Linked DNA regions of Homo sapiens. Each later gene encodes a partner of the first gene's protein in a complex. Each region holds a gene or a part of one and is shown on either strand. Other genes may lie near its edges.

Region 1 (6,671 bases):
TTTAAATATTCATTTAACATTTATTGAAGACAAATTCTTGGCCAGGCCCTCTGCCAGGGGTTGTGAATATGGTCTCTGCCTGTAAGCAGCAATTTGTCTCATGGGGCTTAGTGTTCTTCAGTCCACTCTGTTCAACTACCCTGCCCTCCCCAGAAGCTCTGAGGACCCCCTGATACCTACCCCCAGCTTAACAGCCCTCTTGTGTTGCAGATCTCCTACCTAGACCCCTCAAGAGGACTCGGGCTACCATCAGGCCCAGTCAGCCAACAAATCTGAGCTCCACCCATACTGATCCCCACACAGGTTGCTCCAGAACCTCCTGGATTCCAGAGCAATAGCTTAAAGTCATAGTGTCAGTCTGAGGTGTGTTCCAAGAAATTTGTTACTAATAGGAAAGTACCAAAGGGATTTTTCTATAAGTTGGGGCAGACTAAAAGTTTTCCTGTGTAATAGGCATTGTGTCCAGCTCCATTTCCCCTTTCCTCTGGTTTCCTTCAGAGAACGACCCCTCCTTCTGCACTTAGACCATACAGCTCAGGTGGGGATAACCTTGCTCTTAGTTCCAGAAATGGGCGTGTGACTGAGGCCTGGCCAATCAGAGCCCCACATTCTCATGGCCGTAAAAACCAGCCCACAGATGGGCACAGGGACCAAGCAAGGAGGATGAGACCACTTTAGCTGGAGGGCAGGTAGGCTGGAAGTCTGCATCTGCTACAGGGAAGAGCTTGCCCACGAATGAAATCCATGTAGTTCAGCAGAGCTGAGTGACAGAGAAACATCAACTGTGCTTCTTGATCTAGCCAGGATGACTCCTGGAACTTTTATTAATTTTCTACATTGAACACAGCTGAGCATTACTCACATCTGACATCTGTTCAAACAATAACATTTCTCCCCTCCTGGCAGCAGGCTAAAAGCAATATGGGTAATAGCTAAGTATTATTTGAGACAGGGTCTTGTTATGTTGCTCAGGCTGATCTCGAACTCCTGGGCTCAAGTAATCCTCCCGCCTCAGTCTCCTTAGTGGTTGAGTTTACAGGTGTGTGTCACCGCACCCACTTTAGCTGATTAAATAAAAGGGTGTGTGAAACCACTTTCTGCCTCTTAGTGTGAAGAGGGATAGTACTCTAGTTTGGGCAAATCTTCAAAAATCACTATTTGAAATTTGAAAATCGTCCATTTGCAGCTAATGATTAAGTTTAACTTGGGATACTCAAGTTACTTTTCATTTTGGGCACATTTCATCTCAAAGATGTGGTCCCATATTTTGTCCATTTTTCTTTGTGGGAGGCAATGGCAATTCATATCGGCCTCTCATAAAACAACCAAGACCGGGATCCAGGCATGATACTTGCTGAAGAGGCTTCCCTTAGGCTAATCTGACACCTCATTGCAGAAACCACCAGTCACCAGCTCCACTGACCACCTGCCATCCAGCTGGCTGGAGCCGAGTGCTCTGCAGACTCAGAAGTCCAAGGCGTGGCTCCCAGGGGCCCTCACACCATAACCCCTCAGTGGACAGCACCACTGCAGAGGAAACCTCAGTGTGGACCATGGCAGGGCCCTGCTTGAGCTGTCTCTGTTGTGGATTGAGTCCCAGCTCCAAAAGGACTCACACATTGCCTCCCCTCCCTCCATTTCCTGACACATAGGTGGCTATTCTGCAGTTAACCTTTTATTGTCCCTCCCCTTGTATCTTAGCAGCTAGGAAATGAAGTAGGTTGGTATGTTTTAGTTGTGTGTGCATATGAGAGTAACAGTGTCAGATATTAAGGTTCATGGGTTTTAGAAATGTGTATAATCAAGTCCTCACAGCCAAAAGTTTTAGTGTAAACTATCAGTTCCAGGAGAAAAAGGAGAAAGATAACTAAGAATGAAGAGAAGAAAGTGTCCAGGAATTCAGTGTGACTATCAGAAACCACTAAAAATGAATGCAGTGCTGGGGAGAACTGCAGACTGGCAGAGCGAGGCCAGATGGCCTGTCACCCCACGCCTTAGTGAACACCAGGAGCCAACAGACTGCCCAGAGCCAGGGCCTTGGTACCACACCCACACCACAGGCTCACACAGGTAGGAGGCAGGCAGGTTCAATCTTGCTGCCACATACTAATGACCACAGGCGGCCTGAGGTCTTTGAGGTTGTTTCTTCTAACATTCTGCAGGAGGGAGTTCATTTTTCAATACTGAATGGGCTGCTGTAAACAGGTTATCTCCTGGGACCACTACAGCTTAAGGACAAAGCGTGGGGATGGCACAAGTGAAGGGAGGGTGTCTCTCCTGCCTCCTCACCTAAGATGAAGCCTCCATCAGCTCACCCACACTTGTTTTTCTCTTCTCCATGAACTTGCAGGGGCATGTACCATTAGTAAGGAAAATAAAACCTTTTAAATATGTTTACTGAAAGCATCTTTCTTGCACAAGGCTTAAAGTACTGTGCATTTGTGAGCATATCGTGCTTGATAATGAACACGCACACACATTCAGCTCATTTACAGACAAACCATCCACAAGTTGGATTTTCTACATTTCAAAATGGAATGACCATAGCGGAGGATGTCAGGTTCTAAGCCCTGTCTTGATAAAGTTTGAGAGATTGTAACACGCTTTTACTTTCCTCTTTAGGTTTTAAGCATTATGTGCTGACTGAAGCTAGAAATAAAAACAGCTTTGCTTTCAGCCAATTTCTGCTTTACTGTGTCACTGAGACATGTTGTTTGAGACCCCTCATCATTAATGGCCAATGATCCAAGAGTGGAAAAATGGTCTGAGTCATAATTATAAACAGGTTATGATCAAGCTGAACGTCTGACCTTAGAATTAAATCAGGCCAGAGAAAAGAGAAATCATGCTTTGCTCTGTCTTCTACTGCAGGGTTGATGTTTACAATGTCCCTCTGCCCCTTTCTCCCATATTTGGGTGCTCTTCCCCATGCTCCTATGGCATCCTGCATGTGCATGATTCTATCAGCACTAATCTTACTGCCTGCAATTGTTGGTTTAAACATCTGCCTCCCCAGAAGACTTGAGGGCAGAAAACTTTTTTTTTTTTTTTTTTGACACGGAGTCTCGCTCTGTTGACCAGGTTGAAGTGCAATGGTGTGATCTTGGCTCACTGCAACCTCTGCCTCCTGGGTTCAAGCGTCTACTGCCTCAGCCTCCTGAGTAGCTGGGATTACAAGTATGCGCCACCACGCCTGGCTAATTTTTATATTTTCAGTAGAGAAAGGGTTTCACCATGTTGGCCAGGCTGGTCTCAAACGCCTGACCTCAGGTGATCCACCCACCTTGGCCTCCCAAAGTGCTGGGATTACAGGCATGAGCCACCATGTCTGGCCCAGAAAGCATTTTGATAAAACTCTGGTTCCCAGCACTCAAACCTGGTGCCTCAAACACAGTAGGTGCACTGCAAATGTGTGCTAAGTGAAGGTAAGACATGCTTACTTTAAATAATTCACAAGACAGAAGACCGCACTTAAAAAAATCTACAAGGAAACACCAATTTAAAGAAAAGAAAAATCAGTAAGTATCTGTGAGAATAATGGAGCAAAAGAAGTCCTGAAAGAGTTCTGCATCTTGGTGGTCATATTTATTGGAGAGCTTGAGAAAAATGAAAATACCATTTAGCTTAAGAAGTTGTGAGTTATCTGCAAATCAACTCATTTCAGGAGTGGAAGAATCCCCGGAATTATTTCTTAATATCAAAATGTATGCAGGTTTCTCTTATGAATGTTTTGTACTTTTAGAGAGGCCACTGTACAAAGTCTCCCGTTTTCCATACAGGACAAATTCTTTGTTTCAGCCAACTCTCAGTGGAGGGGCAACCAGGACAACGCCATCTCCCCGGACAAAGAGCATTGGAATATTCCGTTTCGTTGACTAGAAGAGAAAAAAAAACAGAACATATTTGTACAACTGTGTATTACTGCTTATTGTTTGTGACAGAAATGTTAAAAAATGGATTCATCATGACACAAAAAAATTGGATTAAAAAACCTGATCACTTCCCTTGGTAGCACCAAGAACCAATCCATCAACTGCTTCCTTTCGACAATTGTGGCAGAGACTGGAGCTACCCATTAAAACTCACTCTTCTCCTCCTGGGCACACAGCTGGACTATGTTTCTTATTCTTCCTTGCAACCAGATGTAGCCATCGGATTGCTTTAACCAATGGCAAGTAAACAGAAATGACAGGACTATATCCAGACTGACCCAGAATGCCCCTCTGCAGTCGTTCCTCTAACACTAAATGAACTAAGATAATGGCGAGAGCTCAGGGGATGGCAGAGCCACTGATAGGTGAAGCCTGGGTCCTTGACTTGCCACCTGGAAGAAAGCTATTGTGCAGATCTAAACCCCACCAGGGCTGTCATATGGGCAAGAGATCAACTTCTACTTTGCTGAGCCATTATGTGTTACTTCTGGGTGCTACTGTGGTCACACATATGGAATGGATACCTTGAAGCATGAGCTTAGTGGTCAGGCCTTGGGCAGTAAAGAAACACATGAATGTTCGAAATCCTAATATTATGCCTTGGCAAAATATTAGATAAAACTTGGAATGTAGCCCAAGGGGCTCCTAAACTCACGAGCTCTGGGAGAAGAGGCTGGAAAAGCCAAATGTTAGTAGATGTTGCTGTTAGCCTAATGTATTTAGCAGGGCAGTAGAAGAAACAGAAAAGCTCAGGCAAGAACTAGTTGGTTTTCAAGCAGAGATGAAAAGAAACAGGATTCACAGGGTTAGAAAAGCCACTGGCTTTTAGACCCCAAGTTACAGAAATAAGTATGAAAAAAGGCTTTGAGAAACAAGGCCCAGCAAAATTTCCCAGGTAAACAAACTCAGCCCTGAGGCAAAGATCAGATTAAGGGTGTTGTCTTTCCACCCAAACTTTTGTAGCAAATGGCCTCAAAGTAGTCAACATTAATTTCAGAAAGCAGAACAGGGGTGAGAAACTGAAGAAATAAAGCAGTCCTAGAAACTATGCCTAGGGAAGAGCTTAGACAGGTTACTGGCCCTTTGAATTGTTTGGATGTAAACAGCTCAGAAACCTATGTTCTAAGTTTTTAAAGAAATTGCATTGCCAAAGAAACCATAAGCCTGGCCAAAAAAAACCTTTGACTATTTGCGTCTTCCAGCATAATAGAAGTTGGCCCTGAAAGCTCTGCGGACCCCATTTAGGGTTGCCAGATTTTGCAAATAAAGATGTAGGACGCACAATTAAATTTAGTATAAGTTCCAAACATTGGATGGGACATATTTGATCTAATTGAGGGATTTCTGCTGCTACCAGGACAGGGAGCATTCATGCCTTCCCAGTGGGATTCACCACTGTTAGGGACCAGTAACTGTCTTATGTTTCTCATTCCTTCCTTCTCTGGGAAGAGAGTTTTTGTGGTGGATATCCTGTCCCTGCTGTGTTTATCATAAATGTGGGAGGGGTAAATTATTCATCTTCTTTGGGGATAGGTTTCTGTACAAGTGACCACATGTGGTCTGACGGAGAAAACCGAAAGTCACGTGGCAGTCCTGCACCCTGAGCTGGATATCCTGCTTGCATCCTTTGGGGGTACAGATGGTTCTGTCTGGGAAGTAGGATTCTGCAACACCCACTATCGTTGATCTCTGCAGCAACTTGGCCATCAAACTCACAAAACTCGGCCAGGCACGGTGGTTCACACCTGTAATCCGGCACTTTAGGAGGATGAGGCAGGTGGATCATGAGGTCAGGAGATCAAGACCATCCTGGCTAACACGGTGAAACCCCGTCTCTACTAAAAATATAAAAAAAAAAATTAGCCAGGTGTGGTGGCGGGCACCTGTAGTCCCAGCTACTTGGGAGGCTGAGGCAGGAGAATGGCGTGAACCTGGGAGGCGGAGCTTGCAGTGAGCCAAGATTGCGCCACTGCACTCCAGCCTGGGTGACAGAGTGAGACTCCGTCTCAAAGAAAAAAAAAAAAAAAAACTCACAAAGCTCAAGATAGCCAAGGGCACACAGCTTTATACAAAGGAAACACAGCACATGCCAGCTGGGCAGTGGCAAGTGTCTCAGAAGTCTTTACAGCATTCCAAGGATTCTTCCCTAGCTACCCAAATGACTGCTTAGTTAGCAGGTGGGTGCAGGAGCCACCCTGGCTTAACTGCGCCAAGCTCCACACCAGAACCAGTATCGTTTACAACAGTTCCATGAATGTGGCTTTACAGTCACCAAGGAGGGGGCACACTCCACTACAAGGGTTGCATGCTCTCAGGGAAGACCATTGCTATGGGCTCCTAACAGTATTCAGAGCTCATTCACAGTTCTCTCAGTTCAGATGCAGTTTACAAACCAGGGGCCTCTTTTTAAAATACAGCAATATTTTTTATTAACACAGCTGACATTCCAATTTTATCTGTTTCTAGGGAAAATGAACTGGTAAGTTAACCCATGGTCATTTTTCCATAAATAATTTTTTTTTTAAAGCCCTTTGCTCACAGGTATATACAGACACTGGTTGCCAGTGTGGGTGGGGGGGAGCAGACTATGGCAGAAACTGCTAGCTGTTCATAAAAATTCCTTCTTCCTTCCTGGGCACACAATTCTACTATATTTCCCAGGCTCCCTTACAGTTGGCTAGGGTCATATCACTGAGTTCTAGCCTAAAAAATTTAAGAAGAGGTGTAGTACCTCCAGGC
Region 2 (7,874 bases), on another chromosome or scaffold:
AATCAAGGGACAGTCTACCATATAACTGGTGACTACTCTTCAAGCGTCAAGGGCATGGAAGACAGAGGAGACCCCCAATTGGAAGGGACCAAGGAGACATGACGAAATGCAATGGGGGATCCTGGACTAAGCCTAAGCCAGAAAGCGGACATTCATGGAAAAACATGAAATGCAAATACGACTGACAAATTAGTTAATAGTACTGTGTCAATGTTAACTCCTTCGTTTCAATAACTGCACTAAGGTCATGTAACATCGGGAGAAGCTTGGTGAAAGACATGCAGAAACTTTTTTTTGGGGGGGCACTATTTTTGCAAATTCCTGCAAATTTAAAATTATTTCAAAACTAATTTTTTTTTTTTTTCTGAGACAGAGTCTCGCACTCTCGCCAAGGCTGGAGTGCAGTGGCGCAATCTTGGCTCACCGCAACCTCCGCCTCCCGGGTTCACAGCATTCTTCTGCCTCAGCCTCCCGAGTAGCTGGGACTACAGGCACATGCCACCATGCCCGGCTAATTTTTGTGTAGTTTTAGTAGAGACGGGGTTTCACCATGTTAAACAGGATGGTCTCGATATCCTGGCCTCATGATCCGCCCACCTCGGCCTCCAAAAGTGCCAGGATTATAGGTGTGAGCTACCGCACCTGGCCTCAAAACTAAAATTATTTTTAAAAATTTTCCTCAGAGGAAAAATGTCATCTGTTAGAAGACAGTTAATCGGTATTCAGTCAGCTGAAGTTTTTCTTTAGATGTCTGTTTAGAGGGCAATCACTAAAGCTAAAAAAAGCAAATACTATCACCAATTCCACTTTAAGTTTTTATCATTAAAGACTGGCAGCCAGGCGCAGTGGCTCACGCCTGTAATCCCAACACTTTGGGAAGCCGAAGCGTGCGGACAACCTGAAGTCAGGAGTTCGAGACCAGCCTGACCAACATGGAGAAACCCTGTCTCTACTAAAAATACAAAATTAGCCAGGCATGGTGGCGCATGCCTGTAATCCCAGTTACTTGGAGACTGAGGCAGGAGAATCGCTTGAAATGGGGAGGCAGAGGTCACAGTGAGCTGAGATCACACCACTGCACTCCAGCCTGGCCAACAAGAGCGAAAGTCCGTCTCAAAAAAAAAAAAAAAAAAAGACTGGCCAATAGGAAATGCCAAGGCAGTGGTCCTAACACCTGCAAGAACATCTCTTCCGACAAGAGCGAAATTCCATCTCAAAAAAAAAAGACTGGCCAATAGGAAATGCCAAGGCAGTGGTCCTAACACCTGCAAGAACATCTCTTCCGACAAGAGCGAAATTCCGTCTCAAAAAAAAAAAAGACTGGGCAATAGAAAATGCCAAGGCAGTGGTCCTAACACCTGCAAGAACATCTCTTCTGAGGGACAAAAAGTGCACATTTCTCCGTGTTTTTCCTGCTCCCTCTCACTCTCAGTAAAGATGTTCCATGAATAGCTAAAATTTAAATGCATGAGCCACTCCAAGCCATTCATTACAGACACCAACACACACTGGTTAGGTCAGCTGCTCCCAGAGACTGGCTGGAGGAGCCACGAAAGCCGGACACATCTCACCTCATCGTAATTGGTGTCATTTAGATCCTCGTCGTCATCGTCAGCAGCCTGATTTTTCTTCATCTGGTCCCCAACGGTTCTCTTGCCTGGGGGTGCATGGCGATCATCCACAGGGTCATTTGCATCACGGGCGGGCCCAATGTCTGACCGCGTGGTGAAGCCAGTGGCGCTGCAGGAGACCCCCAAGACACCGGGTGTCTGAATAACTCTGTTCCTGTGCTCTTCTCCACTCCTGGTTATCACTTACTAACACCTCTTTTTCTAACACCTTTGGGAAACCTCCAAAGATCCTGGTGACAATGAACTGCAGTCTCAAACACTTCTGATCTTCTCTGCTTACCTGAAAGTTTCAGCCTACCCTGATGATGTTACCAAGGCAATCTCTCTCCACCCTAAGGCTTCGATCATCTCCCCCTCCACATCCAACCAGGCCCTTAAACCCAACTTGGCCCACACTGAGCTCTTCCGTGCCCACCTTACAGCTGCTCTGGGGGGTTTCAGCTGATAACAGCTGTCCCAGATGCCACGGGACCATGATGTAATTTTTGCCTCCCTCTCCCACTTTCCCCATCCTGTCTGTCCCCAAGTACTAATGAATCCACTTTCAAAATCCCTCCTTCCCAGACTATGACTCCCATCACAGCTGGAAACCAAGTTACCTCTCCCTGCCTTTAGCCTTCCTCTACTTCAACCCATGCTCTGCCAGATGATTCTTCCCAAAACACAGCTCTGAGTAAAAAATTCTGGGCCGGGCGTGGTGGCTCACGCCTGTAATCCCAGCACTTTGGGAGACGGAGGCGGGTGGATCATGAGGTCAGGAGTTCAAGACCCCCCTGGCCAACATGGTGAAACCCTGTCTCTACTAAAAATACAAAAATTAGCCGGGCGTGGTAGCGGGCACCTATAATCCCAGCTACTCAGGAGGCTGAGGCAGAGAACTGCTTGAACCCGGGGGGCAGAGATTGCAGGGAGCTGAGATCGCACCATTGCACTCCAGCTTGGGCGACAGAACAAGACTTTGTCTCAAAAAATAATAATAATAATAATAATTCTGAAGGGTCATGATCTTTCTAACGTCTCCAGGAGCTCTAGCCTGACGCTCAAGGCCCCTCCAACCTCCTGAGCTCTATTCTATTCGCTGTACATTCCACTCACACTGGACTCCCTCCTGTTCCCTGGGCTTCCTCCTTGCCTCACTTTTTTTGAACTCCCACACGCAGAATGTCAGTTTCTCTTCTATCGTCACCGTTTCTACAGCCCTAAGTCCAGCTCTCTTACTAAACTTGGCTCCAATGCTACTCTCCATTAAGCACTGGGTTCTAAATCTGGTCCTCTTTACGTACTTATTTATGGTAATAGCAAACCCTCCTTAGTGAGCTTGTGTGTGCCCCACAGATTCCAATATAATACCACCACCAAGAAAAACCCAGTAGTGTTCCTCATCAAATGAATAGCCAAATAGGATAATAACGACTGCTCACTTATCCAGCAACGCACGGTGGTCATCTGTGTTGCAGGCATAGAGGACCCAGGCACGCTTAAGGCGGGGCGGGCGGGCGGGCGGGGGGGGGGAGTGTCAGCCCGACCTGAGGAAGGTGGTCGCGTGTTTCCACTACACGTCAGATTCCTCTACTCCTCACTGCAGACCGTATACAGCATTACCCATCTTACAGACCAAAACACTGGGCTGAGAGTCAATGTGTCACATCTAGGCGGCAAGCAGGGTGCACACACAGGTATGTCCTGACCCCAAAGCCCGTTGCTTCCTGCAGGGATTAAGCCGATCCACCAAGCGTCTTTCAGACTGCGCGGCCATAGACCCCCGCCCCCAAACACGCCCCAAAGCACTGCGCTCCTGTAGCCGGGTCCCCGCCCCTCGCGCGCCGCCCCAGGCCTCACCCCCGGCCCAGCCCCGGCACGTAGCCGAGGGGCGCGGGCATCCCTAGGAACGGTTTCTTCTTCTTGTTCATGGTGGCGGCGACGACCAAGGCTAGGAAGGAAAGGAATGAGGCAGCGGAAGAGGGAAAGACGCAGAGACTCTAGGCTTCGACGTCCGATGCACTCCGTAGCAAAGTGTCGCCGTCGTCGCGTCACCCGCGCCCCGGAAGCAGAGCGCTCAGTCCGCACACGCCCCGCCCACTTTTGATTCCCTGGGCGGAAGTCCCGACGTCCTGGTTCGACGACTTCCGGCCGCGGCTAGGGGGCAGGAACGTGGTAGGCGCGTGCGCGGGAGCGCCTCCTCGTGGAGAGGCGGAAGAAGCTAGGTCGAGCTTGCACTGGGACCCTAACTGGCCCCTGGGGGCTAAAAACAGCCTGGGGCATTGCTGCTTCCCGAGTGCTCTGATGCAGTCCGGAGACCTGTCTGTGAGAGTGGGACCCATGGTCCCCTCCCTCTGAACCCATGGCCCCCTCCCTCTGAACCAGCCCAGCTGCCCGCCCTCGCCCCTGGTGCGCCCTGTCCGAGCAGAGCTGTACCCTGTCCAGTTGTGTAGAGCTTGTGTGTACTGGTTATGGGCACACCTGTCTGTGTGCGTCCTGTGCGCACACTGCTGCCCTACGCTTTTAGCACTCATATTCTTGAACCCCCATTCAGGCATCTGTCCCTCCAGTGGGACTAGAGACCCCACCCACGCCCGCCAACATGCCTTGGACATTCTGGTGAGGGCCACATCCTTAGCTCCTGGAGAGCTAATTGACGAAATAAATAACCGCAGCTGAGCTGTCGGGAACACGTCAGTACATGAACATGGCTGTCAAGCATGTGGGTGAATTCTGTGTGTGTGATTAGTGGGGTGTGTGCACAGAGGTCACGTGTGCTCGTGTTTTGGGTGCAAGTGCATGACTGTACTCTGTGCATGCATTTCTACATGTCTGTGTGCATCTCTGGTCCTCCTGCTGTAAGACATCCTCCAGAGCCCCTACATACACCCAGGGAGAGCACCCAGGCTCCTGGGCAGAGCAAGCCGAATAGCTGGTTGCAAGCCTGGCCTGCTGCTGCACCAGGCAACCACAGTTCCCTAGCCCAGCCCCATCTCAGCACTTCTCACTGGAGTCCTGGAGCAAACACACCGCTCCGGCCTGCTACAGCCTCCTTGGAGTTCCCCTCTGCCCCATCTCCAGGCAAGCCAAGCCCCTTTCAGTTACAGAGCACTGTACCGCCCCCTCTCCCCCGGGCACTGAGCCAGGTTCTGGGGCTGCAGAGGGAAGGGAGAACCACCCTGATGTTCACAGTGGGGTGGGCGGTAAGCAAGAGTCAAGCTGGTTTCTCCGGGGAAGCGGGTGCCTATTTGAAGGCGAGTAAAGACGTAGGAGACCGAGGAAAGTGTGTGGGAGGCGTTGACCTGCCCCTTGTCCTGGCCCCGGTAGGTAGAAGACCCCTGTGAGATGCCCCTCAGCCCACCCCCACGCACAGAGGGGCCCGACCTCAGAGGACGCCCGGCAGGTTCACGGGGACTCTCCTCCGCGGAGCCGTGCCCAGGGGCGCACGGACGCCCCTCGCCCTGGCGGACAGCCTTGGTGCACGCAGGCCCGCGCGCCGCCGACACACCTCGGAGCTCCCGGAGCGCGCCCGGCACACAGGGCTCGGCGGCAGGTGCCTCGTCGCGCACACTCGCGGGCCGCGGGGACCGGCTCGGGCGCGGGGCCGGCTGGGGCGGGGCGGGGCGGCGGCGCGCGTTCCCCGCCGGCCACACCGGCCGCCCTGCACTCGGCGAGGGGCGTGTGCGCGGGCCTGGCACCCGCGGGCCCCATGTTCACCGAGCTGAGGTCCAAGCTGAGCCCCCCGCGTGGCCGCGCCGGGGCCGTGCGCGCGGGCTTCGGGGAGCGCCGGGATGTGGACGGTGAGCGGGGCTGGATTGGGGAGCGGGGATTTCTCGGGCGGGGGTCTCAGGGACCCAGAGGCACGGGGGCGGGGCGGGACCCGGCGGGCTTCGAGCGGCGGTGGCTGGGGGTATTCGGCGGATGTCTCGGCTCAACGGGGTCCCGTAGCCTTTGTCCTGCTTTAGGGGGCAGCCAGCCTCAGGCCTTGGGGGTCAGCGCGCCCTTGGCTTGGGGTGAGGGGGTGTCAAGCCGGGGCGCCTGTGTCCAGGCTGGCACTACGCTCGGGTCACCTTTTCCTGCGCACGGGGAAAACCCTCCCCCGCTTTTGCAGTGGGGCCGAAAGGGGGCCGAGGTCACATCCCGCCTCGGTGCCCCCGCCCCATTTCCTTCTGGAATCCTGACGTTGGGGCGGGAGGGACCGGACCGACAGACCGCGGGACGGACGGAACTCCCTCCGGGAGTGCAGGCAGGAAATGGGCGGAGCCTGCTTGGCCGGGGCAGGTGCCGTGCGGGCTGAGGAGTCCGACGGGTTTCCCCGGACTGCCGCGCGCTTCTGCACCAGCCCCGCCGCTCGAGGCCCTGCAAAGCCCGGCGACCACGGCGCCTGTCCGCTGGAAGGCGCGGGCTTAGAATAAGCCTTTTCCCACAGCACTAGGGGCCACCTCGGGGCGGTGGCCCACTGAGCACACCCTCTGCTGACCCCAGACCTCAAATTTGGAGTCACCCAGGGGTCCGGTTCCTGAAAGTTGCAAGAATGGGGGCGGAAGGTGTTATGTCTCCTAAGTCTTACAGGCGTGGGAGGACGGGGAAGTAGGATGTGGTTTTCACCGATACTTAGACCTCCTAGACACATCCCCAACCCCTGCCCTGGGTGTGGAGTGGGTGGCTGAGTCTGAGGCCGGGAGGGTCTCTCACTCTAGGGTGGATGGGATGAGGGCCCTAGCGTGGGAACCTCACCTGCCCTGCTGAAGGCCTGGGTGCTAGGGTGCTGTAAAGACAGGGGCAGGCCTGTGCCCACCTTCTGTCTCCCCACAGGCTCTGTTCACTTGCAGATACCATACAGAGCCTTCATTCATTCATTCATTGACAATGAATGTGGGGTGCCCCTCTGTAACCAGACCTGGATCAAGACGCCTGCCTCCCCAGACTCAGGTCAGCAGTGCCCCCAGAGATGATGACAAAGCTCAGATGAAACACTTTAATGCAGTTACTGTGGGAAGAGGGAGCACAGAGCATCACCGTGGGTCCCCAAGCAATGGCTGCACCCCACATACCTGTGCTGACCCGCCCATATCCAATGGGTACCCACCATTCACATGGCCGGTGTTGTCCCGGGCTGCAGGCCCTGTGGGGGGCGGCACAGCTGGAGAGCCCAGCGCGTGTTTGCGGAGTGAGCCCTGCTTGTCAGTTGGCCCACAGTTCAGGCTGTCAATGAGTCATAGTCAGTGAGTCGGGCCCCAACACCAGATAGGGCTGTGTGAACTGGGTGCCTTCAGTGGCGATGGGCAAGCAGCATCCTCAGCCCGGTTTCCCCAGCACAGACGACCTCCCCGGACTCGGGATCTGCCTTTCCTCAAAGCAGGCCGTGTGTGCACTTCCTGGTCTGGTGTGGTGTGTGCAAGACTTGTGGGCCAGCCCAAGGCAAGGGTGAGGTCAGGGCTGTCCCAGGATAGCTCCTCTTGTCATATGTCTCAGGTTCCCTTCCCTAGAGGGCACATCCTCTGATCTAAGAATCCATCCTGCTCCCCTGGGTGAGGGCTGTAGACTTGCAAGATGAAAGGTGTTTCCAGTTCTTCTCTTTTTGTGCTGGGTGAGGTCCTCGAAACAGGTCCTGCACACTTCCTTCTGCCTTTGGAGGCTTGGGAACCCCTCATTGGGGAGGTGATTTCCCGCACTAGTGTGGAGGAGATGGGGCAGGGAGCTAGCTCTCAAGTAGAGGAAGCCTCTGGTTCTGCCCTTGACTGCCCTGACCAGGCACCCCCACACACAGCCACTGCCCACTTCAGCTTCTGCCGGACCCTCCTGGAGCACACGGTGTCAGCTGAGAGCATCCCCTGCCACTTGCCTCGGACACCTGGCACCAGCCTCACGTGGCATGACTCCCGCAGCCAGAGGGCGGCCAGCAGCAGGCCAATCAAGCTCCTGCAGCAGCCCGGCACAGACACCCCCCAGGTACCCACCCACTCCACCCACCTCCGTCCCTGCCCTCCTTCTCCACCACTCTCACTCTGCCTGCCACGCCCCTCCCCTGCAGGGCCGGCTGTACTCTGACCACTATGGCCTGTACCATACAAGCCCCTCGCTGGGTGGCCTGACCCGGCCCGTGGTCCTGTGGAGTCAGCAGGACGTCTGCAAGTGGCTCAAGAAGCACTGTCCCCACAACTACCTCGTCTACGTGGAGGCCTTCTCCCAGCATGCCATCACCGGTACAGTGGCGCTGAGGGTGCTGTGGGAGTGGGGCTAACCTGCCTCAGAGCGTCTCTT
Region 3 (7,865 bases), on another chromosome or scaffold:
CCATGCCCGGCTAAATTTTGTATTTTTAGTAGAGATGGAGTTTCACCATCTAGGCCAGGCTGGTCTTGAACTCTCGACCTTGTGATCCACCTGCCTCAGCCTCTCAAAGTGTTGGGATTACAGGCGTGAGCCACTGCGCCTAGTCCTACTTTCTTTCTTAAAATAATATTTATTTATTTAAAAATTAGAGACAGTGCCTCACTTTGTTGCTCAGGCTGGTTTCAAATTCTTTGAGTTCAAGCAGTCCTCTTGCTTCAGCTTCCCAAAGTGCTGGGGTTACGCGCATGAGCCAGCACACCTGGCCCTGTACTTATCTGTACAGTCCTTTAAATAATATGTACATTTAGGCCAGATGCGGTGGCTCATACCTGTAATCCCAGCACTTTGGGAAGTCGAGGCGGGTGGATGCCTGAGGTCACGAGTTTGAGACTAGCTTGGCCAACATGGTGAAACTCCATCTCTACTAAAAATACAAAAATTAGCCAGATGTTGTGTTGTGCGCCTGTAATCCTAGCTGCTCAGGAGCCTGAGGCTGGAGAATCACATGAACCCGGGAGGCGGACGTTGTAGTGAGCTGAGATCAGGCCACTGCACTCCAGCCTGGGCGACAGACTGAGACTCCATCTCAAAAAAAAAAAAAAAGTACATTTAAAATATTGATACCTGTTACCTCATTATCCTTTAGAAAGATGGGATCAATTGTATTCTCTTCCCAAAAGCGTCTTCCACATTTATTTTTTTGAGATGGGGGTCTCACTCTGTTGTCCAGGCTGTAGTGCAGTGGCACCACCATAGCTCACTCAGCCTCCTGAATAGCTGGGGCTATATGCCACCATGCCCAGCTAATTTTTTAATTATTTGGAGAGGCAGAGTCTCACTGTGTTGCCGAGGCTAGTCTGAAACTCTTGGGCTCAAGCAGTCCTGCCACCTTGGCCTCCCAAAGTGCTGGAATTACAGGTGTGTGCCACTGTGTCTGGCTGTCTTCCACATTTCTATGTGAGATAATTTTTTCATGGGTTACACGTTGACAGGGCAGGGAATGGTGAGGAGAGGGACTTAAGGGCCTTTGCGTTTTAGAACACAGGTTTCCATTTGTAGCACTGGCAATGCAAGTGATATTGATGTGTATAGATTGGGGCCACAGAGCAAGACAAGTACGGTAATCACTATCAGTCTTAGGCAATTTGGTGTGATGACTTGTTTTTGATTCTCCTCTTTTCTCCTTCCTGGGCCTTTTACATGGGAAGCCTAACTGTTGTGTTATAACCCTAGGCCCTAAAGTACCTTTATTTTTTTTATTTTATTTTGTTTTTGAGACAGAGTCTTGCCCTGTCGCCCAGGCTGGAGTGCAATGGCGTGATCTCGGCTCACCGCAACCTCTGCCTCCCGGGTTCAAGTGATTCTCCTGCCTCAGCCTCCCTGGTAGCTGGGATTACAGGCATGCGCCACAACGCCTGGCTCATTTTTTGTATCTTCAGTAGAGACAGGGTTTCACCATGTTGGCCAGGCTGGTCTCCCAACTCCTGACCTCGTGATCTGCCCACCCCAGCCTCCCAAAGTACTGGGATTACAAGTGTGAGCCACTGCACCCGGCCGTAGTAACATTTCTTTTCTTTTTCTTTTTTCTTTTTTTTATTGAGACGAGTCTCGCTCTGGTCGAGTCTACGCCAGGCTGGAGTGCAGTGGTGCTGTAACCTCCGACTCCCTGGTTCAAGTGATTATCCTGCCTCAGCCTCCCGAGTAGCTGGGATTATATGCATGCACCACCACGCCCAGCTAATTTTTGTATTTTTAGTAGAGAAGGGGTTTCACCACGTTGGCCAGGATGGTCTCAATCTCCTGACCTTGTGATCTGCCCACCTCGGCCTCCCAAAGTACTGTGATTACAGGTGTGAGCCACTGCGCCCAGCCTTCTTTTTTTTCTATTTATTTATTTATTTTTGTTTGAGATGGGGTCTCACTCTGTCACCCAGGTTGGAGTGCAGTGGCATGATCTCGGGTCACTGCAACCTCTGCTGCCTGGGTTCAAGTGATTCTCCTGCCTCAGTCTCCCAAGTAGCTGGGATTACAAGTGCCTGCCACCATACCTGGCTAATTTTTGTATTTTTAGTAGACATCGGGTTTCACCATCTTCGTCAGGCTGGTCTTGAACTCCTGACCTCGTGATCCACCTGCCTCGGCCTCCCAAAGTGCTGGGATTACAGACGTGAGCCACTGCACCCGGCCTTTTTATATTATTTTTAAAATTTTTCATAGAGACAGAGTCTCGGCCGTGTTGCCCAGGCTGGTCTTGAACTCCTGGACTCAAGTGATCCTCCCACCTCAGCCTCTCAAAGTGCAGTGACTACAGGTGTGAGCCAATATGTGTGTGGCTTTAAAGTGACTTTTCTGTTGGGATGAGAAAGAAGATCTTTCTCCTTTTTTTTCCTTGAGACAGGGTCTCACTCTGTTGCCCTGGCTGGAGTGCGGTGGCGCGATCTTGGCTCACTGCAACCTCTGCCTCCTGGGTTCAAGTGATTCTTCCACCTCAGCCTCCCGAATAGCTGGGATTACCGGTGCATGCCACCACTCCCAGCTAATTTTTTGTATTTTTAGTAGGGATGGGGTTTCACCATGTTGGCCAGGCTGGCCTCAAACTCCTGACCTCAAGTGATCCTCCTGCCTCAGCCTCCCAAAGTGCTGGGATCACAGGTGTGAGCCACCACGCCTGGCCAAAAGTTCTTTCTCTTATGTTTGTTGTCAGACCACTTTTGTGCTATGTATCTCCCCCTCCTTAAGGGACTTAATAAAATGACACCACTTTGTACAATTCCCAAATGTTATTTCACTGCTGGAGATGGTGGGGTGCTGTCAAATGTTTTTCAGCAGCTAGCAATATGGTGAGAACATTACTGAGGCAGTGGGTTTCAGATACTGGGTGTTTGTTTTTGTTTTTGTTATTAGGCAGAGACTCACCCTCTGTCTCAAAAAAAATAATGATTGCCTAGTACTAGTTCATTTAAATTAATTTCCTAGAGCATATTTAAGTGGGTCTTTTTTTTTTTTTTTTTTTTTTGAGACAGATCCTTACTCTGTCACCGAGGCTGGAATGCAGTGGCATGATCTTGGCTCACTGCAACCTCTACCTCCTGTGTTCAAATGATTCTCGTGCCTCAGCCTCCTGTATACCTGGGACTACAGGCATGCACCACACACAGCTAATTTTTGTATTTTTATATTTTATTTTTAAATTTTTTTTTTCCTCCTGGGTTCAAGTGATTCTCGTGCCTCACCTCCTGAGTAGCTGGGATTACAGGTGCACACCACAATGCCCAGCTAATTTTTGTATTTTTTTTTTTTTGAGACGGAGTCTTGCTTTGTCACCCAGGCTGGAGTGTAGTGGTGTGATCTCCGCTCACTGCAAGCTCTGCCTCCCAGTTCACGCCATTTTTCTACCTCAGCCTCCCAAGTAGCTGGGACTACAGGTGCCCGCCACCATGCCCGGCTAATTTTTTGTATTTTTAGTAGAGACGGGGTTTCACCGTGTTAGCCAGGATGGTCTCGATCTCCTGACCTCGTGATCCACCCGCCTCGGCCTCCCAAAGTGCTGAGATTATAGGCGTGAGCCACCACGCCCGGCCAATTTTTGTATTTTTAGTAGAGATGGGGATTCGCCGTGTTGGCCAGGCTGGTCTTGAAGTCCTGGCCTCAAGTGATCCGCCCACCTTGGCCTCCTAAAGTTCTGGGATTATAGGCATGAGCCACCGCACATGGCCTAGACGCTGGGTTTTAAAGACTTTCAGAATTTTACAAAAATTGGGGCAGAGAACTGCCAACTTTATTTTTGGCAAGATAAGGACGTTTTTAAAACTGCTATTTATTACGATTATTTTTATTTATTTATTTTTCTTGAGATGGAGTCTCACTCTGTCACCCAGGCTGGAGTGCAGTGGCTCGATCTCGCCTCACTACAACCTCCACCTCCCGGGTTCAAGTGATTCTCCTGCTTCAGCCTCCCGAGTAGCTGGGATTACAGGCGTCTGCCACTATGCCCAGCTAATTTTTTGTATTTTTAGTAGAGATGGGGTTTCACGATGTTGGCCAGGCTGGTGTCGAACTCCTGACCTCGTGATTCGCCCGCCTCGTCCTCCCTAAGTGCTGGAATTATAGGCGTGAGCCACCGTGCCCGGCCACAGTTATTTTATTTTATAACTTTAAAATAGAGATGAGGTCTTGCTATGTTGTCTGGGCTGTTCTCCAGCTGGCTTCAGGCGATCCTCCTGCCTCAGCCTCCCAGAATGCTTGGATTATAGGCGTGAACAACCATTCCCAGCCAAAGGCTGTTTTTTTAAATTTTTGCACCATTCTCTCAAAGAGCACTGGTGTTTTGATAGCATTCCTCAAATAGCATTTCAAGGGGCTCGAGGATTGGGGAATGGAGAGGACATCACTCATGCCTGCATCATCAAGAGTAATGCTACCTACCTTTATCCACATATGGGCTCTGGTTCCAAAGCAATAAATGTTTGAAAATAGCTAGCCTGGGTGACATTCACAGTGAGACCCTTTCTCTACAAAAAAAAAAAAAAAAAGTCGGGAATGGTGGCTCATGCCTGTAATCCCAGCACTTTGGGAGGCTGAGGTGGGCAGATCATGAGGTCAGGAGATCGAGACCATCCTGGCTAACACGGTGAAACCCCGTCTCTACTAAAAATACAAAAAATTAGCCAGGAGTGGTGGCCGGCATCTGTAGTCCCAGCTACTCGGGAGGCTGAGGCAGGAGAATGGCGTGAACCTGGGAGATGGAGCTTTCAGTGAGCCGAGATTGTGCCACTGCACTCCAGACTGGCCGACAGAGCGAGACTCCATCTCAAAAAAAAATCAGCTGGGCATGGTGGCTCAAGCCTGTAATCACAGCTACTCAAGTGGCCACAGTGAGCCATGATCACGCCATTTCACTCCAGCCTTGGCCATAGAGTGAGACCCTGTCGCAAAAATAAAAAAAAAATAGCTGATGGTTTTGGGAGTCACACAGACTTGGACTGAAGTTCCCATTTGTTCTAAACTCATAAAGTTTAAAACAACCTCTCTGAGCCCCTGGAAGGTAATAACTACTTTGAAAGATGGCTGTAAAGATTACAAATACTATATAGAATACAGGTCTAGCCTTTACCAGTTGTTTAATGGTAGCTGTTAAGAATAGGTTGGTTTGGCCGGGGACAGTGGTTCACACCTGTAATCCCAGCACTTTGGGGAGCTGAAGTGGGCAGATCGCCTGAGATCAGGAGTTAAGGAACAGCCTGGCCAACATGGTGAAACCCCATCTCTACTAAAAATAAAAAATTAGCCGGGCATGATGGCATGCGCCTGAAGTCCTAGCTACTCAGGAGACTGAGGCAGGAGAATCGCTTGAACCTGGGAGGCAGAGGTTGCAGTGAGCCAAGATCACACCACTGCACTTCAGCCTGGCTGACAGTGAGACTCCATCTCAAAAAAAAAAAAAAAAAAAAAAAGAATGGATTGGTTTAGGGAGAGGAGATGTGGGGTTGAAAATAAACTACTCTGTTAGTTGTCTTTCCTACTCCAGGGCTTAGGAATGCCCCCTTTTGGTTCTACCTTTTCTGACATCCTCAAGTCCTTGACTTCTCCCAGTCATGTTCTCATCCCAGCTCTGAAGTCACCTCTATGTTGACTTTGTTATAAACTAATTTGATTCTTCTCTCCCTCTGCCCTTGACAGCATCTGTGGAACCCTCCATTCTGTGGATCAGGTGAGATATAGCACGGGCCCCAGAATTGGTTCCTGGAGAAGGAGAGGGGAGACTTAAGGGTTGGGTTCTTACATCATGTCTCTAGGGTTAATAATGGTGTTCGTCGGCCAGGCACGGTGGCTCACGCCTGTAATCCCAGCACTTTGAGAGGCCGAGGCCTGAGGTCAGGAGTTCAAGACAAGCCTGACAAACATGGTGAAACCCCGTCTCTACTAAAAATACAAAAAATTAGCTGGGCGTGGTGGTGGGCACCTGTAATCCCAGCTAGTCGAGAGGCTGAGGCAGGAAAATCATTTGAACCCAGGAGGCGGAGATTGCAGTGAGCCGAGATGGCACCATTGCACTCCAGCCTGGGCAACAAGAGCAAAACTCTTGTCTCAAAAAAAAAAAAATAATAATAATAATGGTGTTCATCTTCCTTTCCTAGTATCTCAACATCAAACTAACTGACATCAGTGTCACAGACCCTGAGAAATACCCTCACATGGTGAGTTGGGGTCTGTGGAGAAGAGGAAACACCTCTAAAGCAGGAGGCCCCTGGGTGGTTAGAGGACATTTTTAAGGGTGTTTTCATATTTGTCCATCTTTGTCTAGTTATCAGTGAAGAACTGCTTCATTCGGGGCTCAGTGGTCCGATACGTGCAGCTGCCAGCAGATGAGGTCGACACACAGTTGCTACAGGATGCGGCAAGGAAGGAAGCCCTGCAGCAGAAACAGTGATGGCTCCTCCTCCTCTTCCCCTCCCTCTTTCATTGGTGACCCATAACCCCAAGTCCCAGCCCAGAACCCCTAACCCCCAATACTTGAAGGGGTTTTGTTTTTTTACTAATGATGGTTTTGTGGGTTTTTTTTAAGGGATGAGTGGATGAGAGGAGTAATAGGGAACAGCTATCCTCTCTTGAGAAGGGGAGGATAAGTAGGCTGGGAAACTTCAAAGCCTTCCCAGTCCCCAGCACCTGCCTTTCTCACTACTTCTCTGGAGATGGTAGGAGAGTTTCCTAGGTCTTTCCAGGGCAGCATGTGATTCATTTGGGGATGGAAGGAATCTGTCCCGCATCGGGAATAAAATTTATGATGCAAATTTGTGTTTTGGTTCTGTTACTATGTGTTGGGCAGGGGGCTGGGACATGGAAAAGGATGTCGAATTCATCCAAGCCCCTGTTACTCTGCGTTAACCCAGCCAAGAATCCAACTCAGCTTCCCACTACTCTCCTTGGTATAAAGCATATAATACAGTTGCTCTACACCATGTTTCCCCAACATGTCCCTACCTGTATGTTCTCCCTGTGGCCTTTTGCTTATACCATACCTGCAACTGGAGTGCTTGCTGTCCTTCCATTAATGTGATAGTGTCATAAGATACATTTCATGCTACCAGACTTCACCAATCCAACCAAATCAGTTCATGTTTTCTGAATATGTATAGAAGATAAATACAAGTGATGTAATTTATATTTTAGAGAAAAGTTGTGACTGGGAATTACTAAACTTCATTCACTCATTCAGCAAATATGAGTTCATGATACAGATGAGACTTCTCAGCCTTAAGGGACCCTTAGAGACCATCTAGTGTGACCCTCCTTTTTGTTTTTGAGACGGGAGTCTCACTCTGTTGCCCAGGGTGGAGTGCACTGGCTTGGTCTGGCTCACTGCAACCTCCGCCTCCCGGTTCAAGCGATTCTCCTGCCACAGCTCCTGAGTAGCTGGGATTACAGATGCCCACCACCATGCCCGGCTAATTTTTTTTTTTTTTTTTTTTTTTTGAGATGGAGTCTCACTTTGTCACCCAGGCTGGACTGCAGTGGTGTGATCTTAGCTCTGCAATCTCCGCCTCCCAGGTTCAAGTGATCTTCTTGCCTCAGCTTCCCAAGTAGCTGGGCTTACAGGTGTGTGCCACCACGCCTGGCTAATTTTTGTATTTTTACAAATACTGCAGCTCTGTCGCCAGGCTGGAGTGCAGTGGCACGATCTCAGTTCACTGCAACCTCAACCTCCAGGGTTCAAGCAATTCCCTGCCTCAGGCTCCGGGGTAGCTGGGATTACAGGCGCCTGCCACCACACCTGGCTAATTTTTGTATTTTTAGTAGAGACGGGGTTTCACCATCTTGGCCTGGCT
Region 4 (7,865 bases), on another chromosome or scaffold:
CCCTCATTCCCTGAAGTTCCAGATGCCATGAGCCAGAGGCTAGAAAAAGCCTCACCATTTGACAGCAGCCCAGTGAGCAAAGGAATGCTCTGCCTGTTGCAGAACAATTACTCAAGTAGAGTCCTTAGCAAGACTTGGTGTCTGAGGATCATCTGACTATACTCTACAAGAAGGCAGTAATTTCTTTTTTTGAGACGGAGGAGTTTCGCTCTTCTTGCCCAGGCTGGAGTGCAGTGACGTGATCTCAGCTCACTGCAACCTCCGCCTCCTGGGTTCAAGTGATTCTCCTGCCTCAGCCTCCCGAATAGCTGAGATTACAGGCATGCACCACCAAGCCCGGCTAATTTTGTATTTTTAGTAGAGATGGGGTTTCTCCATGTTGGCCAAGCTAGTCTCGAACTCCTGACCTCAGGTGATCCTCCCGCCTTGGCCTCCCAAAGTGCTGGGATTACAGGTATGAGCCACTGCGCCTGGCCGAAGGCAGTAATTTCTTGGCCAGTACACATACTATTTCCTGTCCCTCTCTTTTTTTTTTCTTGAAACAGAGTCTCACTGTTCCCCAGGCTGGAGTGCAGTGGCGCGATCTCGGGTCACTATAACCTCTGCCTCCCGGATTCAAGCGATTCTCCCACCTCAGCCTGCCAAATAGCTGGGACTACAGGCTTCCACCACCATATCTAGCTAATTTTTGTATTTTTAGTAGAGACAGGGTTTCTCCATGTTGGCCAGGCTGGCTCAAACTCTTGACCTCAGGCAATCCGCCTGCCTTGGCCTCCCAAAGTGCTGGGATTACAGGGGTGAGCCACTGTGCTCAGCCTTCTGGGTGTCCTTCTCTTCCTCAATGTTCCCGTCTTGATCTTACCTGAAGGACAGCGTTGGCATAATCATTGGCCTTTATGTTATTCAGTCCCACAATACCCGGCAGGTAAGTGGTACCATCATATGCCCGGGACAATTTGGCTTGCTTGTCCAAGTTTGCAATTTGCTGCTTTGTGAAAGTGGGCTTCAACACATACTGCAAAGCAAAAGAAAATGCTAAGTTGTTTAAGAGCTGAGTTCACAAGAAATGTCTGTAACAGTAATTTCTACAAAAACAAAAAACACTTGGCCATGAACATCCCACCACACACAGAAAAATAGTCCGAACCAGTAGGTGTAAAGATTGAAGTAACACGGAGTAGATCCTCTCCCATGGCTAATCTACAAGGGGATCTCTGTGTCTATCCCAAAATCACTGAATCCCAGGTCTTTTCGCCGACCTCAGGTCTGGTCAACTCATGAAAACTGACTGCCAGAAACCATACAATACTCAAGTTCCTAAAGGCAGTCTAAGTCTCAGATAGAACCTCCTGGGAGCAGCACATGGACCTAGCTTTGGAGCAGGAGAGTTTCCTCCACTCTGGGTGGGAATGAGGATCTCCATGAGTCCCTGGTACTGGAAGAGCAGGATCAGACTCTTCCCAGGCACAGAGTTACCACAGTCATTATGTCACAGACTGGACAGAGATCATCGCAAACTCACTTTGAAACACTGAATTTAGCCCAGTTTTTCCCTCTATAAATACTGACCATAACTTTTTTTTTTTTTTTTAGATGGAGTTTTGCTCTTGTTGCCTAGACTAGAGTGCCATGGCATGATCTTGGCTCACTGCAACCTCCCCCTCCCAGATTCAAGCAACTCTCCTGCCTCAGCCTCCCAAGTAGCTGGGATTACAGGCATGTGCCATCATGCCCGGCTAATTTTGTATTTCTAGTAGAAACGGGGTCTCATCATGTTGGTCAGGCTGGTCTCAAACTCCTGACCTCAAATGACCCACCTGCCTCGGCCTCCCAAAGTGCTGGGATTACAGGTGTGGGCCTCCCCACCAAGCCTGTCCATAACTATTTTAATCTCAACTATTAATAATAGGCTTATACAACTTTTACAAGTAGAAAAAGCAGTATTTCAAAGACTAAATACCACGTTTTCCTTAAAAATAAACAGAGCATGAACAACTTAGGCAATGCAGTGAGACTCCATCTCTACAAAAAATTTTAAAAATGTATCTGGGCATGATGGTAACGCCTACAGTCCTAGCTACTTGGGAAGCTGAAGTAAAAGTATCACTTGAACCCATGAGGTCGAGGCTGCAGTGAGCTGTGATGGCACCACTGCACTCCAGCCTGAGCGACAAAGTGAGACCCTGTCTCAAAAAAAAAACCAAAAACAAGAACAGAGCACATGGCACCATGAATACACCCCACGTGCTGAAAAGGAAAATAATAATCAAAAGCCCAACACTAATCAAACCCAAGAGGACTTTCCATGCTCAGTACAATGAGTGTCTCTTGGCACAGGTCACAAACTAGAGCCCACAGATAAGATATCTGTGGCTGGATGCTCTGGCCACGGCGTATGTTAAAAGCAGCCAGGAGCCGGTGTGCAGCTTGGTAAATACTGTCCTACACCAGGACCAATTCATATCCCTACTTCACAGTGTAGAAGAATAATTTCACAAAAACACTTTAAACCCCATCAGAATACACCCATATTTCTTCAGTCCTAGCCCTCAATGTTACAAGTAGAAATGACAGTTAAGTTACAGACTACAGGCTGCAATTATGAATTCTGACCTTACTCAGTTTCCCCAGTTCTTCCCAAAAGAGAAAGCAGCCTCTCGATGCCTAAAGGGACTGAGATTCTTCCCTGTCCTCAGGTGGGGCAGTCCCCTGGGAGCCCTGGGATGGCTCATTAAAGAATGGACCCCAAACCAACCCTCTTAGACACACACCGTGATATCCTCCAATGAGGAATCGATGATCTCATAGTTGTCTGGAAGGCAGTAAAACTTGAGGGTGTGGAGGTTGAGGAAAACATGGTGGCTAAACTGGACACTGTGAATGTAGGCGTGAGACTTCAAACCCCGGCCTGTAGGGAAGGGTGAAAAGCTGTAATAGAAGGGCAGATACTAGAACACACAGATCAGGTTTGCTTTTCCTTTCATTATTTTCTACCGGAACATGTTAATATCCGCAAAAAACAAATATTATGCCATTCATAAAATGAATCCTCCACATGAAGTTCTCTCATAAAAAAATTAGCAAGAAAGACTAGCACATTAGTTACTTCATTCTCTAAATGGCCTAAGACATTGATTAGGGAAACAAATTTCACTATTTTTTAATATATATGTAAAATATATATAACCTATATATATATCTATATATAATACATATAACTATATATTCATACATAGTTTCCTATATACATGAAACTAGAAATATCTATGCATATATGTGTGCATAAATACACATAAACATAAATACATACATATCCTATGACAGTCCATCATCACTCAGTCCTGGATTTCCAAATGCCCATATTCAGGACAATGCTTTATCTATGTAACTTTTTTCATGTTGCTACTCCTTTCTAGAATCTCTCTCCCTTAACCATTCAAATTCTATGTCCTGCCAATTCAAGTCCCACCTCAGCTCTTCCATGAACTCAACATAAACACTCCAGCTAACATTGATTTTTGCACATTCAACTCCTATTGCACTTATTTTTACTCCGTGCCACAGTCCAGCAGTAATCTTTATGATCTAACAGAACTCACTGGTTGTTTTACATGTCAACCTTGACTCCTTATAAGCTCCTTACGAGAGCAAAGAATACAGTTTTTATCTCTTTTTTTGAGACAGGGTCTTGCTATGTTAGCCAGGTGGGTCTTGAACTCTTGACTTTAAACAATCCTCCTCCTCGGCCTCCCAAAATGCTAGGATTAGGTGTGTAAACCACTGTGCCCAGCTGTTTTTACCTCATTTGAATCCTCCACTATACTATGTACATGGCATCTGCTTGGTGTGAATGAGTTGAAATGATAAATTTTCAGAAAAAAATGGAATAAAAAAAGTCCTTTGAGCTAAAGAATATTCCAAAAAAAAAAAAAAAATTGTAGCCTGGGTAACATAATAAGGCCTTGTCTCCACAAAAAAATAAAATAAAATAATTAGCCAGACAGCAGGGTGCAATGGCTCACATCTATAATCCCAGCACTTTGGGAGGTACAGGCAAGCACACTGCTTGAGCTCAGGAATTTCAAGACTAGCCTGGGCAACAGAGTACAATCCCATCTTTTAAAAAAATGTGGCCGTGCACGGTGGCTCATGCCTGTAATCCCAGCACTTTGGGAGGCTGAGGAGTATGGATCACTTAAAGTCAGGAGTTCAAGACCAGTGTGGCCAATATGGTGAAACCCCCTCTCTACTAAAAAATACTAAAATTAGCCGGGTGTGATGGTGCATGCCTGTAATCCCAGCTACTCAGGAGGCTGAGGCAGGAGAATCACTTGAACCTGGGAGTCAAGAGGCTGCAGTGAGCCAAGATCACGTCACTGCACTGCAGCCTGGGTGACAGAGTGAGACTCCATCTCTTAAAAAAAAAAAAAATTAGGCCGGGCGCGGTGGCTCACGCCTGTAATCCCAGCACTGTGGGAGGCCAAGACAGGTGGATCACCTGCGGCCAGGAGTTCAAGACCAACCTGGCCAACATGGTGAAACCCCGTTTCTACTAAAAATACAAAAATTAGCCAGGCATGGTGGCAGGCGCCTGTAATCTCAGCTACTCTGGAGGCTGAGGCAGGACAATTGCTTGAACCCAGGAGGCGGAGGTTGCAGTGAGCCAACCTGGGCAACACTGTCTCAAAATAATTTTAAAAAAGTAAAAATTAAAAAAATACATATATTAGAGATTCGAGAACCCAGAGTCTTTAAGATTACAGTCTTTCATATGACTAGCTCTTTCTCCCTTACAGACATATCCAGGTTCTGACCAGTCAGAGAACCTCTTATTGGTTTTCTAAGAATATTTCAATTTCCTGGGAACAAATAGAAATTATTAGATATGATTCCTGAGAACAGCTTACTTTCTTTAAAAAAAAAAAAAAAGTCCCTCTGGAGCAGATCTGCAGTTAGCTCTAACAACTTATTTACCTTGAAAGTACTTGCCACACACCAGACAGGCATAAGCATTGATGTGTGAGAGGGAGATAGAACACAGTTTCTCAAAGTCAAAGTCCAGCACACTCCTAAGGAAACAAAACAGAAAAAAATAAATAGGATGGACATGTAGGAAGGCACGCAAATGAAGCAGTGCTGGCTCTGTGACCCATGATACCACATAACATCCTTCAGAAAACAGTTCACAACCATATATACACCATGGGGGACACTGATTATTCCTCACCTCCACCCGCCATGCTCCAAAGCACTGTTGAGGTGTCTCCACCAGACACATAATACCCACGAGCCTCTTTCTCATTAGTGTTTGTAACCAGTTCAGGACTTTCCATTGCAGTCACTTTCTCTAGAGAGAAAGCTACAAGTTAGACTAAGGTAACAGTACCCCAGCAGCATTCTGGAGGTGGAGAGGACATAAAAAGGGTGAATAAATCCTTGCATAAAAGAAAAACATATCACTTAAGCCCAGGAGTTTGTGACTAATGAGCTCTGATCCACCACTGCACTCCAGACTGGGATACAGAGTGGGATCCTCTCTTAAAAACAAATAATAATAATAATTAATTACAAAATAAAAATGTATTTTTATCCATAAAAACAAATAGCCTGAAGAATTTCAGAATACCTATAAACAGACCTATTTATTCAAGTGCAAAGTGAGTACTGGCAGTAAGGAACAAAAACCTTATCTCCACTGAATCCACAAAGAGATTTATTCTCAAATAGTAACTCTTAATTAACCGATAATAATCCCAAAGAGCTATGCTGTCTAATTTATTAGAGGCCACTAGACAAAGTGGCTATTGACAATTAAATTTAAAATACAGCTGTCCCTCAGTAGCCACAGGACACTGGTTCTAGGACCCCTTCAAATACCAAAATCCACAATGTTCAAGCCCCTTACAGCTGGCCCTTTGTACCTTCAGGTTCCATATCCTGATACTGAGGCTGACTGTAATTCAATTAAATAAAATTTAAAATTCAGTTCTTCAACTGCAGGAGCCACTGAAGCCACAGGTGGCTCATGCCTACCATAATGAACAGCCCTTATAACTTTTTTGGTTTTTTTTTTTTGAGATAGGGTCTCACTTTGTCATCCAGGCTGGAGTACAGTGGCGCAATCTCAGCTCACTGCAGCCTCAACCTCCTAGGTTCAAGCAATCCTCCTGCTTCAGCCCCCCAAGAAGCTGGGACTACAGGAGTGCACCACCACACCTGGCTAATTTTTTTATTTTTTGTAGAGCTGAAGTTTTGCCATGCTGCCCAGGATGCTCAAACTCCTGAGCTCAAGCAATCTGCCTGCCTCAGCCTCCCAAAGTGCTGGGATTACAGGCATGAGCCAGAGCACCCGGCCATAACTTTTTTTTTAAGTTTTTTTAAAAGATGGGTCTCGTTGGCTGGGCGTGGTGGCTCATGCCTGTAATCCCAGCACTTTGGGAGGCCAAGGCAGGTGGATCTCCTGAGTTCAGGAGTTTGAGGTCAGCCTGGCCAACATGATGAAACCCCGTCTCTTCTAAAAAAAATACAAAAATTAGCTGGGCGTGGTGGCGGGCACCTGTAATCCCAGCTACTCAGGAAGCTGAGGCAGGATAATCACTTGAACCTGGAAGGCGAAGGTTGCAGTAAGCCAAGATCGCGCCATTGCACTCCAGCCTGGGGGACAAAAATGAAACTCCATCTCAAAAAAAAAAAGATGGGTCTCATTATGTTGACCAGGCTGGTCTCAAATTTCTGGCCTCAAGGGATCCTCCTGCCTTGGCCTGCCAAAGGGCTGAGTAAAGGCGTGGGCCACCACACCCAGCTCTTACAAGAGTAATTATATTATTGTAAAACATTCCCCTACAATATAGGTTGAAAAACATTCTACATGCCACCTGGGAATCAGAGAAAAGAATGCTATGATGAGGTAAACTACCTCAGCTTTCAAACAAATTTCTGTGTTTTTTTTCTGCTGAATCCCAGGCACCCAAAATAGTATCCAGCACATACTAGATACTCCATAAACATTTCAATGTGCTACTGTTATTTTAGGATACTATGCATCCTGTTATCCCAACATACAAATGCAAAATAAGCTCTTTAACAACATGTGTTCTGACACTTTAAATCAAAGAATAAGGAGTAACATGGCAAGAAGCACAACTCTCTAGACAGGTTCAAAAAAAGTAAAGTTTGTCAATGTGTTGTTCACTGTACAGTCCAAAAACTTTCTGCACAGATTCCATTGTTCTTGTGCTATACTCAGCATCTCTGTCCTACTGACCTGTTAATGGTGTCCAGGTACGGGCAGTGGCGGCTCCTCCGGTCCTCAGAATCCACTCGGCCATTCTTTGCTGAAAGGAAAATCATCACAGGCTTTGAAAATGGGAAACCTATACTCAGGGCCAACTAACAGAACAAAAAAAGAAACAGAAATGGGAAAAACTAATCAAGATGAGTTCCTATTGTTTGGGTGGCAACAATATCGAAAAAAAAGTCCACTAGCCGGGCGCGGTAGCTCATGCCTATAATCCCAGCACTTTGGGAAACCGAGATGGGTGGATCACCTGAGGTCAGGAGTTCAAGACCAGCCTGGCCAACTATGGTGAAACCCCGTCTCTACAAAAAACACAAAAATTAGCCAGGCATGGTGGTGGGTGCCTGTAATCCCAGCTATTCAGGAAGTTGAGGCAGGATAATTGCTTGAACCTGGGAGAAGGCGGTTGCAGTGAGCAGAGATCGTACCGCTGCACTCCAGCCTGGGCGACAAGAGCAAAACTCCCTCTCAAAAAAAAAAGAAAAGAAAAAAGCCCACTAATAGAACAAGCCACAAACTGGGAGAATATATTTGGTATACATAAAATCAACAGAAGATTTGTTTGCAT

The links.
Region 2: LSM3 (region 1) and PRPF6 share a complex: the UniProt entries of both Homo sapiens proteins name them as parts of the U4/U6-U5 tri-snRNP complex.
Region 3: LSM3 (region 1) and LSM2 share a complex: the UniProt entries of both Homo sapiens proteins name them as parts of the precatalytic spliceosome.
Region 4: LSM3 (region 1) and USP39 share a complex: the UniProt entries of both Homo sapiens proteins name them as parts of the U4/U6-U5 tri-snRNP complex.

The regions. Positions count from the first base shown.
Region 1 is NC_000003.12:14,195,240-14,201,910, reverse strand, and holds the end of LSM3 (U6 snRNA-associated Sm-like protein LSm3), read right to left. Parts: intron 3,876-6,671; coding exon 3,795-3,875; 3' UTR 789-3,794; downstream 1-788. UniProt on the Homo sapiens protein: Plays a role in pre-mRNA splicing as component of the U4/U6-U5 tri-snRNP complex that is involved in spliceosome assembly, and as component of the precatalytic spliceosome (spliceosome B complex).
Region 2 is NC_000020.11:63,976,913-63,984,786, reverse strand, and holds the start of PRPF6 (pre-mRNA-processing factor 6), read right to left. Parts: upstream 3,656-7,874; 5' UTR 3,542-3,655; coding exon 3,471-3,541; intron 1,741-3,470; coding exon 1,572-1,740; intron 1-1,571. Other genes in the region: SAMD10 (sterile alpha motif domain-containing protein 10), read left to right, coding at 4,793-4,933, 6,443-6,542, 7,381-7,562, 7,645-7,816. UniProt on the Homo sapiens protein: Involved in pre-mRNA splicing as component of the U4/U6-U5 tri-snRNP complex, one of the building blocks of the spliceosome.
Region 3 is NC_000006.12:31,796,361-31,804,225, reverse strand, and holds the end of LSM2 (U6 snRNA-associated Sm-like protein LSm2), read left to right. Parts: intron 1-5,718; coding exon 5,719-5,749; intron 5,750-6,176; coding exon 6,177-6,236; intron 6,237-6,343; coding exon 6,344-6,469; 3' UTR 6,470-6,830; downstream 6,831-7,865. UniProt on the Homo sapiens protein: Plays a role in pre-mRNA splicing as component of the U4/U6-U5 tri-snRNP complex that is involved in spliceosome assembly, and as component of the precatalytic spliceosome (spliceosome B complex).
Region 4 is NC_000002.12:85,618,689-85,626,553, reverse strand, and holds part of USP39 (ubiquitin carboxyl-terminal hydrolase 39), read right to left. Parts: intron 7,335-7,865; coding exon 7,265-7,334; intron 5,070-7,264; coding exon 4,975-5,069; intron 2,929-4,974; coding exon of another isoform or gene 2,909-2,928; coding exon 2,772-2,908; intron 1,016-2,771; coding exon 863-1,015; intron 1-862.